Homo sapiens: one gene and its partners. The protein of the gene in region 4 purifies or fractionates together with the protein of the main gene of each other region. This does not show direct contact. Each region holds a gene or a part of one and is shown on either strand. Other genes may lie near its edges.

Region 1 (3,500 bases), on a different chromosome or scaffold from region 4:
TCAAGTTCTGAAGAAGCAATTGGAAAAACAGACTTAATTTTTACATGTAATTTTGGAACAAAAATATTTCATTTCAAAAGGCTCAAGAATCAGTCAGAAATAATCAATGTAACGGGGAAAAGTACTGAAAGTAGCTTACCTGTGTACACAACTGTACAAGCAGTTTGGCAGCACTAGGAGCATTTGATGCCAGACATCCCACTGCTGTGCTCAAATAGGCCAGGCAAGAGATAGGCTTGTTAGCCTTGCTATGCCCACCTCGTGATCGTTCTGAGGTGCTAGCCATGGCAGAAGGGCTGGTGGAGAGGCCAGCTCTCCCTGCTGCTGCCAAGCACATTAATCGAACTAGCGTTCGGATATCTGTTAGCCCCAGAGACTCAAGACCAGCAGCCAGGCTACAACTGGAACCACTGCCAGTAAAGAAAAACATCTCAGATGGATAAAGAAAATGGATTTCTTAAGGGACCATTTGCAGTCCCACATAACATTCACAGCATCAACAACCATAATAAAATGTAAGCTGCACTATCATTAGCCATACATGTCCTAAGAGTTGCCAAAGGTATCAAGCTGGAAACTGGCATCTAAACGTTCTCTCCTTTTAATAAGTATTGGCATATACTTGAAGTACAATTGAACTGACAAAGTAAAACAGGAATGTTCACAAAGCATAAATTTTCATAAGCTGAACAAACCCATGTCACCGCCCTCCAGATCAAGAAACAGAACATTGCCAGTACCTCAGAAACCTGCTTTGGGCTTTTCTCAGTCACGATGCTCTCAGAAGTAACCACTATCCTGACTTCTAAAGCTACAAGTTAGTTTTGCCTGTTTTTGAACTTTACATCAATTGAATAATTAATATATGTACTCTTTTGTGTCTGGCTTCTTCAATATTATGTTTGTAAGATTCATCCAAATCTTGTAGCATTGAGCAGTTCGTTTTCATTGACATATACATGAAATCTGCCACAGTTCATTTATCCCTACAGATGACAATCAGGCGGTTTCCAACATGGGGCTATTATGAATAGTACTACCATGAATGATTGGTCTTTAGGGGGCACATATTTAAGTATTTCTGTTGGATATATACCCAGAAGTGGATCTCTGGGTCACAGAGTATGTTCCTGTTCAGTTTTAGTTGATACTATCGAACAGTTTTCCAAAGTGGTTATACCAATTCATTTTCTCACTAACAATGTATGGGAGTTTTAGCTGTTTCAGTCACTTTTTTCTCTCTAGTGTTTTAAATGTTTGCCATTCTTGTGGGTGTGCAATGGTATCTCATTGGTGGGTTTTTTGTCTTAGGTTTTTTTTTTTTTTTTTTTGAGACAGGGTCTCACTATGTTTCCCAGGCTGGTCTCAAACTCCTGGCTCAAGGGTTCTTCCCGTCTTGGCCTCCCAATCACACTGGATTTTAATTTTCATTTCTCTGAAGACTCACTGAGGTTGAACATCTTTTCATGTTTATTGGCCATTTGGAGATCCTCTTTTGTGAAACACTTCTTAATGTGTTTTGTCCACTTTCTTCTGGGTTGTCTTTTTCTTGTTAATTTATAGGAATTCTTTACACATTCTGTTGGTTAGATGCATTACTAATATCTTCTCCCATTCTATGGCTTGCTTTTTTACTTTCTTACTTTTCAAATCACTTTTGCTAAACAGAGGTTTTCTATTTTATTGTATTCCAATTTATCAATCTTTTATGGCAGATTCCTTTTGTGACTTGCTTGAGGAATTTTTGCTTGTCCCAAGACCAAGAAGCAATTCTTCTATGTTACCTTCAATAAACTTTATTGATTTATTTTTCTTTTATATTTAGATCTAATAGCCACTTTATAACTATTTGCTTTATATAGTTTGAGGTTGGGACCAAGGCTTTTTTTTTCTATGTGGATAAACCATCAGACCCTGCTTCAGTTACTGAAAAAAACAGCCTTTCTCTATTGCTCTACAGTGTGAACCACTGTCATAAATCAAACCATAAATCAAGTGTTTATTTATATGTATGGGTCAGTTTCTTAACTCTCTTCTGTACTATCCTATTTGCCTATCCTTGAGCCAATAGCACACAGTCTTATGGAAATTTTGTTTTTCTTTCAGGATCTTTCTGCCTTCACTGATTTGCCATTAAATACTCCTGCTTAATCACTTCTTAAACAGCTGTCTTTTAGGTATTTCTGGTTCTCATCCCCTTTTTACATTACACTCCACAGTATCAACACGGCAAGGATCCCCATGATGGCATCTGCAGGCTGACTTAGCTACACAGACGGTCAATACATTTTGACCTTTAGTTTTTGATCCAGCACCATTGGGATCAACAGCCTTAGTTTCCCATTTCAAGCAACAAAATAAAATGTATGCAGTTTACTCAGTTGTGATAATGGCATTATTTTCTACCTAAAAAGAGCCAAGTATTAACTGAATGACCGATTGAGTGAATAACAATGACTACGTCTAACATCTTTCATTCAACAGTACATATTCAAGCTTCTAAAATTCTATCTCACCCTCCCAAACACCACCAGACTTCCAGCTAATGTACACTAGAAGTTAACTTAGCATCATGTGACATAAAATAACACTTACCTGACTGAGAGAAGAGACAGCGCTCTCATGACCATGGTTCTGGCCAGAAGAACCTGAGCAGCAGCAGTCACTCTCCTTAAAGCCACCACACGGTCATGAGGGTTTGCTAGGGCAGCTGCCTGCTCTCCTAACGTTATTCTCCCAGAGGAGCTCTTTTCTACGGAGCCATGGCAACCTGAAAAACATAATTCTGTTTTGTTCTCAACAAGGTAAGAAAAAAATACATCTGAACTACTAAAAACATTTCCTATTCTACAGAGGTTCCATAACAAACCAATGTCTTTTGCTCATCTGGAACTTGGTTATACAGAAAATTTCTTAGGAGAAACTCACATATTTCTAAGTTTGAACTTGGATATTTCTAACTTAGATATTTCTATGTTAACAATGTATTTACCATAGGAGTATTTATACTTAATTTACCAGTAAGTATTTTCTGTTTTGTTCATTTTGCCCATGTATCACATCTACTGATTATAAGTGCTTTGAGAATTTATAAAGGACTGAATTACCAATACTGCCCAATTCTTTATTTTGTATTCCCTATACCAAAAATTTACCACACCCTCTCACCCAAATAAAAAGAAGACTGCACAATAATTTTAAGTTGGTTACAGGATTCTCTTAACACCAAGTTTTTTTTTAAATAACAAGTTCTATAAATCTTTTTATTGCTTCGGTATCATGAAAGACAAAAAAAAATCAAAACATTTATTTTTTCCTCTTGAGACAGGGTCTGGTTCTGTCACCCAGGCTGGAGTGCAGTGGCTCAATCATCACTCACCATAACCTCAAACTCCTGGGATTAAACAATTTTTCTGCCTCAGCCTCCTGAGTAGCTGGGACTAAAGGTGCACACCACCCACCCAGCTACTTTTCTTCATTTTTTTAATAGAAATGGGTCT
Region 2 (3,500 bases), on a different chromosome or scaffold from region 4:
TTAAAATGCGTTTTCCTTTCTATACATACTACTGACCAATTAAACTCTGCCATAATTGAATGACTATTATCTAAATATTTTGTTGTAACAGTCATAGTTTAAGCAACAACCTTCAATATCATTTCAAATATGCTTTGAAAGCAAAATTTTAACATTAAGATAACAAGGGAGAAATACTCAAATCATAATATAAAACTCAATATATCAAAACACACTTAAAATTCATGAGCAAATTTAAAAGGGACACATTATACAAAAAATCAAGCTGATTATCAATTTTAAAAAAATTCCCATGAAAAATGATATAAATATGCTACAGGAAACACAACAGGTGTAATGAAACTTGACAGTCATCACTAAACTACTGGAAATAATTCTGAGAAGACACAATTCATATATATACTATGGCAAAATAAAATTCAACTGTACTTAGAATATCTTGTTATTTTATTATTTTATCCTATCAAAATAAGCTATATAATCTGACTCAAATAGGGCTCTAAAATGCAGCTCTGATTCAGTTACTTGATCTAAAATGAATCTGAAAGCACCTGACAGAAAATATATAGAGATATTAAGTAGTATTTAATCTTTCAATGATGACACTTATTGAATCTGAATAATCTGTAGCATTGATCTTTTGATCTTTTCCTACCAATTATTAGTATGCAGTTATTGGCAATACCAGAAGCAGCTAAAAACTATAAAATCAATAATTTAAACTTATGTTTAAGGATAATTATATAAAAGTCATTATATAATATTTACTCAAAGCATTTTTCTCTAGACAAAGAAATATTTTTACTTTAAGCTCAGGGAATTTGTTTCTAAGAGAAGTCAGAACAAAATGCCACAGTTCCTCCCACTCACAATTATACAAACATTCACTGACACAAATCTCAAAAGCCCAATAAAATAACTTTAACGTAACAAATGATTTTGCAAGACTATCTCTGATCAGCCAGACCAATTTAGGAGCATGTGAAGGGAAGTGTCTGGACATTAGTTTTACTCGAGTTTTGGCTTAATTGTACTTAACAAAAAATTAGTATTATACTCATTTCTAATTAATCATATGACCACATTTCTGTCCTTTTTCTCTATATACACACATATATTTTATGACATATTTATGTACCTATTGCAAGCTATTCTGCTTAATCACTATTTACACATATATGTGCAAAAATTCTTTTACACTACTACCTCTGCTTTCCATATTACCCATCACTGTGGCATATGGTAATCACAGCAGCTACTCATCTGTTTGCCCTTATTTCCCTGCAGAGGGAATTAATTTCTATCCTATTCATTTTATTAATGGTAATATAATTACCCATAATATAAAAATGTCATTAGTAATTCAAAGAAAAATGTAATTATTTAAACAAGTAGTTTTTTTGGTTTTTTTTTTTTTTGAAGTCTTGCTCTGTCGCCCTGGCTGGAGTGCAGTGGCGCGATCTCGGCTCACTGCAAGCTCTGCCTCCCAGGTTCACGCCATTCTCCTGCCTCAACCTCCTGAATAGCTGGGACTACAGGCGCCCGCCACCACGCCCAGCTAATTTTTTTGTATTTTTAGTAGAGACAGGGTTTCACCGTGTTAGCCAGGATGGTCTCGATCTCCTGACCTCGTGATCCACCAGTCTCGGCCTCCCAAAGTGCTGGGATTACAGGTGTGAGCCACCGCGCCCGGCCTAAAAAAAGTAGTTTTAATATCTTCTTTTTTTTTCTAATAGAGACAGAGTTTGCTATGTTGCCCAGGCTGGTCTTGAATTCCTGGGCTCAAGTGATCCTCCTGCCTTGGGCTCCCAAAGTGCTGGAATTACAGGCATGAGCTACTATGCCTGCCCTAGTTTTTAATTTAATGATGGAAATTTAGGAGGCCTAAGAGATTTCATCAAGTAAGATAACAATACTAGTATAACGGGTCTATAAAATACAAGGTCTTTTTCAGACTTTTGTAACTAATCTTCCTTTTGATGGACACTTATGATGAAGGAAACCTGTAGCTCGCATATTGAACTCTTTTTCCCAAGAACTTAGTCCAGGTAACAGATTCCATTTATACCAGTGGCAACATGGTAGGTCTCAAGTCTTTAGCAGCAATAGTCTAGAAGATTGTAATGTTGAAGTTCCACTCCTAGAAAACAGACATTTGTTCTTTATAAAATGAGGTAGGACATGGACTTCAAAAGTAAAGAAGGAAGTTGGGGACTGCCACTGAAAATAAGGAGACTGTATACTCCAAAGCTGCCTTCTTAGCTTGAAGTCAAACTCACACCTCTTTAAATAACAAATTCCAGGAAGATCGATACTTCAAAAACTGTAATGAAGTTCACACTTATCAAATCTCTCCCCTCGCCCTCCTACCAGCATCAAGAAACAGATCACTGACCTATATTCTTTCTTTAAAACACACACATAACACATAAACAAACACACATAGAGAGTTCTAAGTTGGTTTTTGTGTAGAGTGTGCCTTGACTGGCTTTTTCCGTTAAGTCATTGGTTTGAAACATTTAAAAGGGTCCACATTGCTAACGTGGCTTTGCCTTAAATTGCAAAACCTGCACTTTAAATGTACATTAATTACAAAAATTTTAGCAAGTTGTACTATGCATATTTGGCAAAACAGACCAAAAACGAAGCAAAATCACCACTAAATGCATAAAATTAAAAAAAAAAAAAGGAGTTGCTATGTGTATTTTAGAAAATACTTCTAAAGTAAAACAGGAATATATCTCAATAGTGGAAATGAGATCTGAAAAAATTAACAGACACTATTTTATTTTTCATTCATTTTGTTTTGAATGATTTTGTTACTTTAGTGATTTTTTTTAAGGTGAGTGAAGTAAATGGTAAATTATGAGAGGGAAAAAATGCAAAATTATTTAACTGTAAGGAAACTGTGCCACTAGGGAAATCTTAAAAGGGAACAAGATGTATTTAAAATTTTTTGACTGGGACATCAAACAAATCCCCTTTACAGAGCAAAGGCAATAACATCAATTAAACTTAATACATATGCCAAATTACTGTATCTCATATGTCACAATAATCTTTGGTTAAAAATTCAGATTTAATACTTATAAATATCTAGACTTAGAGTTATACATGATTCAAGTATACCCATATATCTTCGGCTAAAATCAATTTTGGAAAAAATGTTTAAGTAGTACTTTCATTTCCTACACATTTCTGGTTTAGGCAAATTTTATAAAATTCATTACTAGGTAGCGTATACTTGCTACCAAGTTAAAGAATAATGATGCTGCCTTATTCTCAAATGATTAATTTAGGTAACAGTTACATATATTTTTTGAAGTAATATATATTTAATGTAACAGATTGGGCACTGTGGCTCACACCTGTAATCCCAGCGCCTTGGGAGCCAAGGTAGGCAGATCACTTGAGGTCAGGAGTTCGAGACCAGCCTGGCCAACATGGTAATATTCTGTCTCTACTAAAAATACAAAAAATTGGCCGGGGAATGGTGGTGT
Region 3 (2,923 bases), about 40 Mb from region 4:
AACTGATAGTGAGAGTTCTTTCATTTAAATTCTTTCCTAAACAAAACAATCCTGCCTTGTTGTTAGGGGTGCCGTCAGCTTAAATATGTAAATGTCCTTCACCTTTCTTGATTTTTAAGGTTTGTTTTCAGAAAAACAGGAATTGCAACTGGATGGCAAAATGCACATTTCAGCAATACATACAAATTCACATTTATTCCTACACTGGCTACAGAGAATACTCTGTTCTCCAATGTCTATAAACAGGGCCTGGCTCATAGTTCTAATTAATTAACTTTATTAACTTAGAGCTGAAAGGAGGTGGCAACTTAAGGAAATAAAAAGCAATAGACCTTGCCCGACTAGTTCCATATAACTGCTTTTTAACTGAAGGTAAAAGAACAGTCACTTACTTATTACATGTAATAAAGCAAAATAGATGCTTAGACAGACTGCATAGCACAGTCTATTCTCAGCTTATCCACAGAATGTTTTCAAAAAAAGAGAGACAAAAGAAAGCATTTTTTTTCATTTAGTGCAAGTAGCAAGTTTATTTCCTTTGATATAGAATTAACAGAGTAATGATGCCCAAATGAGGTAATATTACATTTGCTTAGGAAAACTTTCCTTGAAACACTTATTTAGATCTTTGTTAAAGTTATTGATTGTCAGATCAGAGAAATTGCAATCCCAAGTTTATTCATAAAATAAAAAAAGTTGTTACTTTGGAAATTTCAAAATGGCAATTTTATCTCAGAGTCATAATTACAAGGGGAAAAATACTCTCTTAGCCAAGATCAAGAATTTCGGCAGCACTGCAATTCTGTTTACATCCACGTTACACAAAAGCACATGCATTTGGCAAAGAGAGTGCATACATTCTTATTGCATCATTTTTCGTTATGTGCTCAATTGCCTTATGGTCCCCTAGAGGGTCTACTTAACATGAATTCAACAATGATGATAATGGGGTCACCAGTCATTTCCTTACATATATAGCTCTGATGTATTCAATTACATGTTTTTGATGTTGTGCTGGTAGTATATAGATCCCAATTAAGGAGAAACTTGGGCCTATATAAACAATATATATGGAATATACATGGATATGTAAAGACTTGAGGTTGATGACCTGACATCCATTAATGTTAAAAATAGTAAAGTAAAAATTCCAGTGGCTTAGAAAGATGGTATTTTCTTAAGGACACACTGCTGAACACATGGCCACCTACCTGCTCTCTAAAGCAATATGTATAATTTAACCACCAAATAAAGAACTGAGGAATACCAGGAGACAAAAAAAAAAAAAAAAGGATTAAAGCCCGGTACAATCTTGAATAAACCAAAACCTCCAGTACATAGAAAAAGCATTGCAATCATATATTTAGCTTTATTTTTCTAATATATATCATAATTTAAAACTATATAAAGTCACTTACATAAAAGCAATTTTTTCAAGTGTTATAGTTTAGAGCATGGCTTTATATTTGGCTTAATCATTTTTTTTAAAAACCAGTTTAACTTATAAAGCTCGTAATCTTGCCAGCAGGGCTTCAACTTCGGGAACTGATTCATTTTTAGAAAAAGAGCCAAGAAGTTCCGTTTCCTTTTTTCTGTTGCTTTCTACATTACACGCTTCCTTCTTCTCAGCTGCCTTGATCCTCCCAGTAGACGTATGAGTGTCTAGATTATAATTAAGCTCCTTGGCGACTGGAGTCCTTGTTGAGTTGCAATTGATATTGTAGTGTGAACGTGACCCTTCTGTCAACTGCACTTTCTGATTTTCTACAGTAAGGAAAAAAGAAACATAAAACTTATCACCATGATAACCAAGGACTGTGCACGTTATGAAACACATTTAAAATAATTATTCTCAATAAATAAGTAGTCTTCTTAGATAGACTAAACAAAGAAACAGTCAACAGAGTAAGACAGGTTTAAAATAATCACACAGGGGTTTAAGAATAAACTAAAATATAACAGCCAACCGTTTCATTAGCACTAATGCCCATTTCCTTCTTCCTTTATGCCTGACATGCCTGTCACGTGGTTATTATCAGGGCCTGGTCCCATATTTCTTTCAGGTCTCTGTTCAAACACCACCTAAAAAGAGAGGCCTTCCCTAGCCACCCATCTAAAATAGCATTTGCCCTTTGCACTGCTCTATCCTTCCCCGTCATGTTTTCCTTCACAGGGCACATGATGGCTGGACACACAATATATTTGCTCACTTGTCCATTGTCTGTCTTACTAGAATGTGTGCTCCAAGACAGTAGGGACATTATTTTAAATACTGCTGTAACTTCAGGGCCTAAAATGGCCCTGGTGCAAAGTAGGTCCTCAATAAATATTTGTTGGATAAATAAATAATTTCCACACTCTGTGACACAAGATTAAACATTAGCTTGAATAATAATGAGATTAATTTCCTTTTTGAATGAAATCAAGAAGGAAAGTTTCTAATAAGAATTTAAAAAGTCGATTATTTTCCTTTAAAGAAACAATGAACTTGGCAAGCAAATAATTAAAACTTCCTAGCAAACCAGAATGTTATATGTAATTGTCAAGTATATACACATCTATACATACATGCATGTACATATATACATACACACATACATTCTTTTATTGGTAAGTGATGGTAATGATGACTTTTAAAAAACAGACACCCTCAATATTCATGTAACCTTGAATGGGGCTTGAAAATGGCTTCAACAAACCTGACATGACATTTAAAGTTTTTTGGTTATTCTCTGAGAGATGTTCCATTGTCCCAATAGTAATGACTTTGGAGCACAAGCAGTCACTCATGACAGTGTGTTTTATGTGAGTGCTGAAAATTCCAACTGAAAACAGCTTGTACATTAAAAGGTGGCTGCTGAAGATATTTACTGCACTGTCATTTTCTGACCAGAGGCTTCCAGTGATGGATGAGGATTTTACA
Region 4 (4,116 bases):
AGTGCTTTAAATCAGAAAACAAGAATTAGCTAGCTTACACATTCCACTGAATAGTGTCAAAAAAGATAAACGTATTTAAAATAAGTTGTAAGTCCAGCAAATATAAGCTTGATGGGTTAACTAACATATTAAGTAATTACAAAGATTCATTTTTTTACAAACTTTTAAACTATTTTAATAAAATGGCTATAGACCTCACTGTACTTCTATTTATCTGTGCATTAATAAAAACCTGTTAAAATTCCTTATTTAGTACTTCTGAAAAAGTCTAGTCAAATAAGATCACTAAAATTACCAGAAAAGCTTTGAAATACTGATTGCAGATTCATTTCAAAGTAGATTTAACACATTTCAGGATCTGGTGTTTAAATCATGAATGTCTTCACCAGCGTCAACTCTGAAAATATAAAAATTTTAGTCAGTGCTGGCTGTAACAGTACTGGCATTACTTGAAAAAATAGAAATAAAAAATACATTGTCAATCATGCATTCCACAATTTTCTTTTTGAGCTCGATAGTATATATATTTTTTCTCATTAAAGATTCAAAACCAAAAGTGGTTTCTCTTTGCAGCAAATATACATTAAAATAGAGTCTCTGTACAGCCAAGGGCTCTGGGCCCTGGCTTGCCCCATGTCTCTGCGCCTCCCTGGCCAAACCCAAAAATAAATATAGTGTTATTGTTCTGCAGGGCATAGAGGCAGTGCTCTCCTACCCCCGAGGAGGCTGGGTGGGAGCTGATGGGGAAGCCCTGGCCACCCCAGGGGTCCAGGGGCTGGAGCCTGCTTGGAGTTATTGCTTCAAGGCCGGGCACTAATGCCCAATGCAAATGATGAGAGGAGGAGCAAAGGGAGCATGGGCCTTTGCTCTCCAAGTCCCACTCTGCTCTGAAGAGGGGGTAGGATTAAGCAGCAGCAAAAGCATCACCCACTGGGAGACTGTGGCCTGCACCCCCTTCCCTCCCTGAGATAGGCTTCTGCCTCCCACACATCCCCTGCAGCCCCCTGTGGCTTCGGCAAGGCCCCCTACACTCTTGGGGCACGCTATGGCTTGCAAGGGGCAGCACTGTGCCCAGAGCCCGGACACACGTTTCCAGCTTCTGACATCCCCTAGGAGGGGGGAGGGGAGGGAGTGGGGCCTGCTCCCAGGGGCTGATGGCATTGCCCTGGCCCTGCCAGCAGGCTGTGGCACTGCCCAGACCCCAGCTCCGCCCCAGCCCTTGGGGCTGACCCCATGCTAGGCAGGTCCTGCCAGAACCCCCACCAGTCCCACCCCTCGCCTCAGTCCATCATGGCCTCGAGCATCTCCAAGAACAGCTTGTGCATGGGCACCTTGCCCTCCAGCTTCACCCCATAGAAATGGGCCAGCACTTTGCCCGCTGTCTGGTGGAGGAGCGGTAGCGTGAACAGCAGCCTGCCTGGCCGCCGCCGCTCAGCACCCCCTCCGGTGCCAGCTCGGCCGGCTTCATACTCCAGCAGGGCCTCGTGCGGAGCTTCTGGCAGCTGCTCCACAGCCTCGGCATCTTCGATGGGCACAGAGTCTGAATTGGCAAGGGCCAGGGCCTTCAGTAGAACGTACTCCCCTCGCTCCAGCCGCAGGGACTGCAGCCGCCGCACCAGTTGCAGCAGGGCAGCCCCCAGTTCCCCCAGGCCAGCTGCCCGTGCCCCCTCTTCATCCAGGACTAAGTCCTCAGCGAAGGCCAACTCATCCTGCAGTGGCAGTGAGCGCTGGGCCACACCCGGCACCAGCACCTCCATTCATACTCTCTGCAGTACTGACATCTGGTCAGACAGCGACAGCGATGAGAAGCCTGGGATGCTCTTGGCCCAGCTGATGGTGACCACGATCTCTCGGTCAAAGAGGTCACAGAGGGTAGCCACGGCTGGAAGGTGCCCATCAGGGCCAGCAGGGTCGGGCAAGGCATAGAGCTTCTCAGGCTCAACCACCATTAGATGAGACACCAGTGCATTCACTGGGCCTGTCGTCTGGGGGCCTCCAGCGACTGCCAGGGGCCCAGCAGGGAAGGCGCCCGGGAAGGGCAGCGGGTCCACCTCTGGCACCGCTTGTACTCCCGCCCACCCCGGACGCGGTCCAGGCGCGCTCCCGCAGGCTCTTGGTGAAGCGGCAGGCCTGACAGGCCTTGCGTCTCCGCTTGGTGATCTCACACTCGTTGGAGGCCAGACAGCTGTACTCCATACTCCCCTGGATGGTCCTCTTGAAGAAGGCTTTGCAGTCCTCACAGGATGACACACCGCAGTGGTAGCCGGAGGCCACGTCCCCACAGACCAGGCAGAGGCGCTTGGACAGGGAGCTGAGCACCAGCTTCCCACCGCCCTGCTCGCCAGGCCCAGCCCCCTCCCCATCCTCCTCTTCCTTGTGGCCTGGGAGGCAGTGGGTGGGAGCTGGACCAGGGGCCAGGGCCACAGGAGGCTCGGGTCTCTGTCTCCGAGGAGCCCTTTGGACTGTCAGGCCTGGCCGGCTCTGCCATGATGTAGTGGCTCACTGCCCACCACCTGGCTGGACATGGCGCTGGTCACCTGACACGCGGCTGCCCTCCTGCCCCAGCATGCCGATCCCAGGCACACGGCGGGGGCCGCTCCACCTCCTCGCGACCGGCCTGCAGGTCCACTCTAATATTCCCGCTGTCGCAGACGCCGCCACCTCCCGGGGCGCCGCGCCCCGCCCCCCAACCTAAGCACACCTTTGGGAAGTTGCCTAAAGTTGCTACGCCTCCCCGCAAGCCCCGACGCCCGCGGGAGACCGCTACCAGGTTATCAGGAAGTAAGTGGGGAGAGCCAAGGAAGAGGAAGTTCTTCCCGGCCGTTGCGATGACCTTTGACCCAGAGAGGAGGGTGGCCCCAGGCCCCTTCGAGCGCCCCCACGTGGTCTTCAGAGCCCCTTTCCCGACATAGAGACTTCCCCGTCTTCCACCCCGGCCAGCCCCAGGGACTTCGGCAAGCGAGGGATTGAACCCTGCCCCGGGGCGGGCTGGATCGGAGGCCCAACCCTGACCCGGGCCAGGACCCGCAGCCAGAGCCAGATCTTGCCCCAGGCCGGCCCACCAGAACTCGGACGCCAGATCCCGCCTGAACCCTGACCAGTCCGGACCTCGACTGGGCCCCGACCGTGGCCCAGACTGGCCCCAGAGCCGGCCCCCGCCTGGAGCCCGCCCTGCCCTCCTCCCTGCTGCCTCATCACACAATTTCAAGAACTAAGTGGCCGGAAGCGGTGGCTCACGCCGGTAATCCCAGCAGGCCAAGGTGGGCGGATCACGAGGTCATGAGATCGAGACCATCCTGGCTAACACGGTGAAACCCCGTCTCTACTAAAAATACAAAAAAACAAAAATTAGCTGGGCGTGGTGGCGGGCGCCTGTAGTCCCAGCTACTCGGATGCTGAGGCAGGAGAATGGCATGAACCCGGAAGGCAGAGCTTGCAGTGAGCCAAGATCCCGCCACTGCACTCCAGCCTGGGCAACAGAGCAAGACTCCGTCTCAAAAAAAAAAAAAAAAAGAAAAGAAAAGAAAAAAGAAAACAAAACAAAACAAAAAACTAAGATATGTAACTATAAATATTGTTATGTCTTTGCAGGTTATCTCAACTTCCATCAGGCCTCAGCTGAAAGCTCATCTGCCAAAACGCATCAGCACTCATGTAAAATAAAAGGAGTAGGGAGGTGACTTTGTACACATACTGTCCAGTGTTTGGCTGCCAGTTTCCCTCTTGTGTGTAACTATTCTAGGTATGACTCCTTGAGCATGAAATGAGGGGTAGATAGAACAGCACAGCTGTTGGGCTAACAAGAATTGGTGTGTAGACTGGGCACAGTGGCTCACCAGTGTAGTCCCAGCACTTTGGGAGGCCAGGGCAGGAGGATCACCTGAGGTCAGGAGTTCAAGACCAGCCTGGCCAACATGGTGAAACCCTGTCTCTATTAAATATACAATTATTAGCTCTCTATTAAAAATACAAAAATTAGGCTGGGTGTGGTGGCTCACGCCTGTAATCCCAGCACTTTGGGAGGCCGAGGCAGGTGGATCACGAGGTCAGGAGTTCAAGGCCAGCCTGGCCAAGATGCTGAAACCCTGTCTCTACTAAAAATACAAAAAAACTAGC

What was found. The genes of interacting proteins can lie anywhere in the genome.
Region 1: the proteins of TPTE2 (region 4) and HERC1 purify together in Homo sapiens (affinity purification with mass spectrometry; 2 studies listed by BioGRID and IntAct, with this or other methods). This does not show direct contact.
Region 2: the proteins of TPTE2 (region 4) and STRN3 purify together in Homo sapiens (affinity purification with mass spectrometry; 2 studies listed by BioGRID and IntAct, with this or other methods). This does not show direct contact.
Region 3: the proteins of TPTE2 (region 4) and DIAPH3 purify together in Homo sapiens (affinity purification with mass spectrometry; 3 studies listed by BioGRID and IntAct, with this or other methods). This does not show direct contact.

The regions. Positions count from the first base shown.
Region 1 is NC_000015.10:63,655,949-63,659,448, forward strand, and holds part of HERC1 (probable E3 ubiquitin-protein ligase HERC1), read right to left. Parts: intron 2,786-3,500; coding exon of another isoform or gene 2,771-2,785; coding exon 2,596-2,770; intron 411-2,595; coding exon 140-410; intron 8-139; coding exon 1-7. UniProt on the Homo sapiens protein: Involved in membrane trafficking via some guanine nucleotide exchange factor (GEF) activity and its ability to bind clathrin. Acts as a GEF for Arf and Rab, by exchanging bound GDP for free GTP.
Region 2 is NC_000014.9:30,914,880-30,918,379, forward strand, and holds part of STRN3 (striatin-3), read right to left. Parts: intron 1-3,500. UniProt on the Homo sapiens protein: Calmodulin-binding scaffolding protein which is the center of the striatin-interacting phosphatase and kinase (STRIPAK) complexes.
Region 3 is NC_000013.11:59,665,083-59,668,005, forward strand, and holds the end of DIAPH3 (protein diaphanous homolog 3), read right to left. Parts: intron 1,765-2,923; coding exon 1,502-1,764; 3' UTR 501-1,501; downstream 1-500. UniProt on the Homo sapiens protein: Actin nucleation and elongation factor required for the assembly of F-actin structures, such as actin cables and stress fibers. Required for cytokinesis, stress fiber formation and transcriptional activation of the serum response factor.
Region 4 is NC_000013.11:19,558,733-19,562,848, forward strand, and holds the start of TPTE2 (phosphatidylinositol 3,4,5-trisphosphate 3-phosphatase TPTE2), read right to left. Parts: upstream 2,801-4,116; 5' UTR 2,702-2,800; exon of another isoform or gene 2,607-2,701; intron 398-2,606; 5' UTR 296-397; intron 1-295. UniProt on the Homo sapiens protein: Acts as a lipid phosphatase, removing the phosphate in the D3 position of the inositol ring from phosphatidylinositol 3,4,5-trisphosphate.